Regions from separate parts of the Homo sapiens genome. Here region 2 is linked to region 1. Evidence: fine-mapped QTL for protein levels in blood plasma. Region 1 holds a variant in brackets. A gene starts in the other region. All regions are shown on their forward strands. Region 1 overlaps EDEM3 (ER degradation enhancing alpha-mannosidase like protein 3). Region 2 holds the start of BSG (basigin (Ok blood group)).

What was found. A credible set is the group of variants that fine-mapping cannot tell apart. PIP is the chance, under the fine-mapping model, that this variant and not a neighbour inherited with it causes the effect. Protein levels are from antibody-based Olink assays in UK Biobank. Linkage for the fine-mapping came from a reference panel and not from the study's own genotypes, which makes the PIPs less certain.
Region 2: BSG starts here. The variant in region 1 is the best candidate, but not a certain one, in a credible set for the plasma level of the BSG protein (UK Biobank, PIP 0.76).

Annotation. Positions count from the first base shown.
Region 1 is chr1:184,701,203-184,704,116 of GRCh38, forward strand. It overlaps EDEM3 (ER degradation enhancing alpha-mannosidase like protein 3), which reads right to left. Exons shown (of 20, transcript NM_025191.4): 19 at 1,609-1,794. Among named protein-coding and RNA genes, the nearest start is that of EDEM3, 52 kb to the right of the region's middle. The variant G/A (reference allele first, on the strand shown) is at 1,762.
Region 2 is chr19:570,951-573,864 of GRCh38, forward strand. BSG (basigin (Ok blood group)) reads left to right here and starts at 1,646. Exons shown (of 9, transcript NM_001728.4): 1 at 1,646-1,751. The coding sequence starts at 1,685. It overlaps BSG-AS1 (BSG antisense RNA 1), which reads right to left and starts at 1,298. Exons shown (of 3, transcript NR_184018.1): 1 at 1,159-1,298; 2 at 490-646. RefSeq lists enhancers at 1-466, 547-596 and silencers at 1,417-1,636, 1,807-1,986.

The DNA of each region.
Region 1 (2,914 bases):
GTTCAAATAAAATGTGATCAAAGTAATAAATACTAAAACAACAATGCCTTTGTTAGAGTGACTCTTGTATGGACATAGACATAGAATTCATCTATTGTATGGGATGTATAATTATTAGAATTTAAAATTATTATGTGACTGCTGACTAGACATGAAAATAATCTAATTACGTTACACAAGATATTATCATGGTATCCACTGAAACAAAATTATATATGTACTTGAGTGTGTGTACACACACCCAAATACATATATACGTATATAATTTAAGGCTTGTTAATGCAAGATACTTACTACTATTAATAATGTAGCTTGGAATCATTTTACCTTTTAATATTGCTGCTGAAATTCCAGTGGTAGCACAAAATAGGGGGAAAAAAAGCAAATGCATTAAAGAGTTACAAGAAATAATAATTTGCCTATGTTAGATGTGCCTAAATGCATATATGTAGGCAAGAAGATCTGAGTTTAGAAAAGGGCCCAGGAAAAAAAAATCAGGTATACAGAGGATTTAAGACTAGAAAACCTTTGTATTCTGTTCTGTTTCCATCTATACATTGTTATATACAAACAACCTACTTGCTCACTCCATTGCTCATAAATAATTGACATTTCAAAGAATCTCAAAGAAGAATAAAGCAATACAAGAAGACAAAATTAGGCTAGCATGATTATGCTAGCATGATTATCACCGAACATTTTTTTTTAAATGTCCCACTTGGAAGTCACATTGAATTGAATCAGTTTCCTACATATCTGTCAAACACCCCAGGGGATGTAACAACCCTGTACTATTATGCAACTTCATCTATTTAAGGGTATGGGAGAACTTTAGCTCTCTCTTCAGGTCTCTCCAGCAGACAGGAAAGACTGCTACCACAAGCAAGATCTGAAGGCTCACATTCCCTCATTTCTCCTCTATCCCTGGGTGTGAAACTATGTAAGAATACTAGTAAGGCCTTGCATTTATATTGTAATTTGGGTTTCAAAGACATTTCAAATTACTAACAAACATTTTGGCCTACAGAGGACTATCTACTCTCATAAATTAAGACATGCTATCTTGTTTTTCAGAAACAGCCATTTGTAACTCTTATATCCATGTGATAAACTTAGATCTCATTGGGAAGAAGCTGCTAGATTTCTATTGCCTTCACCAAGACAGCAGTCATTTGATTATAGGTGGCCTGTTGAGACTAACTACTATGATATTGTATACAACATTCTATATATGTCTTCTCATTCCTTATAAAAGACATGTAAGATGTAGTATCAGTGAAATCAAATTGTGAACATTTCCGGATGTTAAAATGGCTTTCCTGAAGCAGTCTCTTGTATTTTTATCACCTGAACAGACTCAGGGCAAAAATTACAAATCACACATAAAAACATATGTCTAAAAACATCCTAACTCAGAAAACAAAGCAAAATAAATGTTTTATTATTCTTATTTCCAAAAGAAAAATATATTTTGAAATCATCTTCTAAAAGTTTTACTTGTTTTCACAGTGAACCCCCCAAAACAATTTTTTGTGACTCATTCTTGTTATCAAACTAGCAAAATTAATATTACGCTGCATAAAAAAACAAATGGTATTTTACTCTTACCTCGATCTTTTGCTTTATCAGAGAGGAGCACTTCTACCTCCTCATATTCCCGGATGGCATCCAGTATGATACTTCCTTCTTTGCTGAATAAGAACAGCATGGGGATCTTGATGTCATCTGTATCCTTTCCATCACCTGCCATCTGGAACAGAG[G/A]GGCAGTATCACTGCTGCTCCCCTCATTGTCATCTAGCCAGAAAATAAATACAGCAAACATCAAAATATCCAGCCATTAAAAAGATCTATCTACTAATTGTTACTGATTTTTTACAATGACAGAATTAATTTTATGCATCAAGAACCATAAAAACCAACATAATTTTTGGACCCATTAATTCTCATAGAAACGTATCCAAAGGAAATAATTCAAAAGTAGCGAAAAGCCCTATGCCCAAATAATTTTACTAGACTATTTATAATTGTAAACAACTGTACACCATTATAAGTAAATTATAATGACCTACTTGATAGGACACACAGAATAATAATACATTTAAAAAGTAGAATACAGAATTCTATGATTATGACTATAAAAATTTCATATGCTTATGGAAAAGCCTAGAAAGGAAAAAATCAATGACTCGGATTACAGTGATAGAACTATGAATGAATTTTATTGTTGAAAATTTCCACTACTGGCATGATTACATTGTTTTACCAAACTAAAAATGGACATTTCTTTTTTATATAATGCACACAAAGAATAGTTATGACTATAGTGCTTCTTCCTCTATAAGCTAAACTAAACAGTATTGCTATTTTGCATTGGTTAAATAATAGTAGTAGAACTATTAATAGTAGTAGTACCAGCAACATGCTGTTTTACTGAAGACGACAATCACGACCACCTCCAAATCGCATGCCAGTCTCCCAGAAGAAACTATCTGTCCTGTCTCAGGGTGCTCACTCTCATAGGACCTGCTAAGTGCAGAATGCATGACCCATCCTCTTGGTAATAATTGATTAGACAAAAGATGGCTACCTGACCCTGAGTCTCTCTGGGGGACCTGGAACTGGCACACAGAAAGACTGTTTCAGTTAGCAGGGGGTAATAGTCCAGTTGAATGACACAGACTTAGGGGCTGAGGCTGCAAACTAGAATGGCCATTTTGGAACTGAGGAACAAAGAGAGAGAAGGCTGGTGAGAAGCTGGAAAATGAAGCAGAATTGCAAAGAGAAGCAGGGAAGAAAAGTTCAGAAGGACCCAGAGGTAGAGATACAGAGAGAAAAGTGAAAAACATTCACTATCATGGATCCTGGTGATTTTTAGTTCCCACTTCTACCTCCTGGTGAATCCTAGTTGTATTTG
Region 2 (2,914 bases), not on the chromosome of region 1:
GGAGAATCGCTTGAACCCGGGAGGCGGAGGTTGCAGAGAGTCGAGATCGCGCCGCTGCACTCCAGCCTGGGTGACACAGCGAGACTCCAACACACACACACACAAAAGATATGGCGCGTCTCATTCATTCACAAGTTCCTCTTCAAAGGTTTGGCTCGTTCAGCGCCCTCGTTCTTCGTTTCCTACTTCCAAGGCCAACCTGACTTCCTCACCCTCTGGGCCTCCCCGTCTGAGTCTCAGTAAACAAGTTTCCCGCCGGTCCTGATCTGCAGAGATGGCACCTGCCACCCACTCTGCACATCCCCCTCCCGTCGCCACGGGCTCTTCCCGCCAGTGTAGCCACATTCCTGCCCCTTTCCAGTTAGCCCTTCGCGTTCGGCTTAGTCTGCGGTCCTCTTGCATTGCGACTCCGAGTTTAACTTCCAACACACACTTTCAACCTCCAAGAGACGCCCCCACCTGTGTCGCCCCAATAGCGACTTTTCTCACCGTGGTCGCCGCGGAACTTCAAGGGTCCTTCCTACCCGCGTTGCTGAGAGTCTGGGTTTACGCGTCACCTCGGGCGGGACCCGATCCTCCGCTCCTGAGGCCCCCACAATGAAGCAGTCGGACGCGTCTCCCCAAGAAAGGTAACCGCCAGCCTCTCCTGAAACAGAATGGGATCCAAATGGGATATTTGGGGGCGGCGAGTCGGTCCCGCAAAGAGAAACCAGCACTTAGAAAATTTCTCAGCGAGACCACTTTACTTGTACGGAAGGGGGCTGCCTGCGTGGGATGCAATCTCCAGAGCACACGGGACAAAGGAAGGGAGCTTCTGTTCCTCTGTCCTTTCCCTGTTGGCTGGGGTTGGACGCCCACAATCTAAGCTGATCCCGGTTGGCTAAAACTTAAAACTTTTTTAAAATAGGGTAAACGCGCCACCTGCGAGGAAAGAAGAAGGGGGTAAGGTTGATTGACAACTTTAGACCTGGAAGTTGAGTTTCTGAAGAGGAACTTACTTGTCCCAACCAAATGGTGCACAGGACGTTTATACTAAGAAATTATTCATTTTCTGAGATCCAGATTCAAGTGCCCTTTAAGTATTTTTATTTGGGCGGAGGAGGTCACTTCCTCCCACCTAATTTATTAATACGTTCATATATATATATATATATGTACATTTTTAAAGGCAGAGATGTGCGTCTCGCCATGTTGCCGCGTCTGGTCTCGAGCTCCCGGGCTCAAGCGATCTTCCCGCCTCGACCTCCCAAGGCTCTGGGAGTACAGACGTGAGCCACAGCGGCCGGCCCGTGTTTAACTCAGATAAAATCTGGGTAACACACTTTCAACGCTTCAACCCCCTCGGGCGCACCGCTCTGCGCTCATTGCAACTTTGAAAGCAGGAAGGAAGAAATGCGCAGGCTCCAGCCGCGTCCCCGCAGGCCCCACTCCCGTTTCCTAGCAACGCCGGGTCACGTGCGCCGCCGCCCGGATTCCGTAGCGTGAGCCTGCCGGAGCCGGCGCGTACATGCGAGCGTGTGCGCGCGTGCGCAGGCGGGGCGACCGGCGTCCCCGGCGCTCGCCCCGCCCCCGAGATGACGCCGTGCGTGCGCGCGCCCGGTCCGCGCCTCCGCCGCTTTTTATAGCGGCCGCGGGCGGCGGCGGCAGCGGTTGGAGGTTGTAGGACCGGCGAGGAATAGGAATCATGGCGGCTGCGCTGTTCGTGCTGCTGGGATTCGCGCTGCTGGGCACCCACGGAGCCTCCGGGGCTGGTGAGGAGCGGGTAGGGGGCGGGGGTGCGGTCCTGCAGGGGCCGGGAATGGAGGCCGCGGTGCCGACCCGAAGCCGACGGGAGCCTGGGGCCTCGGCGCGGGGCGGCCTGGGGTGCGAAAGGCCGGCCCCGGGGGCTTCCCGCGCCAGCATGGAGCTTGGGGGTGAAGTCCCAGGGTTTGAGGGGGGACTAGAGGTTCCTCCCGGCGCGGCCTGCCGGGCTCCCCCGGGCGCTCCGGCCTCGAGCCCGGCCTCTGTGTGTGGGCGTGAAGCTCCCTGCTTGGAGGCGGGAGCCAGGGGGTCCTGGCCAGGCCGGTCTTGGTCAGGGGAGGTGGGCGTCTTGCTTTTCGGTCACCTGGGGTTGGGGGTGACCTGCTTCCTGGGTGAGGGCGTCTGCGAAGGCGGTTGGAGGTGGCCCGCCCGCCGGTCCCATCGGCCAGGAGAAGGGAGACCCAAAGCCTGGGTGAGCGTCCCCTTTGGCCTGGAGCCAGGGGTCAGGGGCTGGTTGGTGCCTGCCCAACCCGTCCTGCTGGGGCTGGACTCCGCAGGACCTGGGGAAAGCGGCCTGGGCGTGGAATCTGGAGACGGGTCCACCCTGCCTGCGAGTGTTAGGGTCAGAGACCCTCCCCTGAGACTCTCTGGGGCCCCCGCAAGGGCCCGTGCGGCCTGGAGCGATCATCTTGGCGCTCCCTTCTGGAAAAGGGGCTTTTGTCCTCCAAGAGCACATGGAGGCTCTGAGTGGGTCAGCCCTCCGGATCGGGAAGGGATTACCGTTCTTCACGGGATTTAGCCCTGGCGTCTTGCCTAGGGCGTGCACCTGCCCCCGGGTGTTCTCCCAGACTCTTAAGACCTCGCAGGCTCCCTCGAGGGGCCCTGCGTGGAAGGGAAGGCGGAATCTCCCTCTGATTCTGCCTGGATTCAGCACCCAGAATGAGGTGGTCTCTGAACGCCCCTCCTCCTTTACAGGCGAGGAAACAGCCCTGTGGGAAGTCGAGGTTCCAAGGTCACAGTGAGGGGGCCCTGGCCACCCGATTCAGCGCAGGAAATAGTGAGAAAGTCGTTTTTAGCCGACTCTGACCCGCATTCGGTTTCCAGTGCTGTCTTAGGAGGGCCGTGTGTTGAGGGTGGGCAAACGTGGTTTGGAGAGCGCATTTGGGAAATGGAT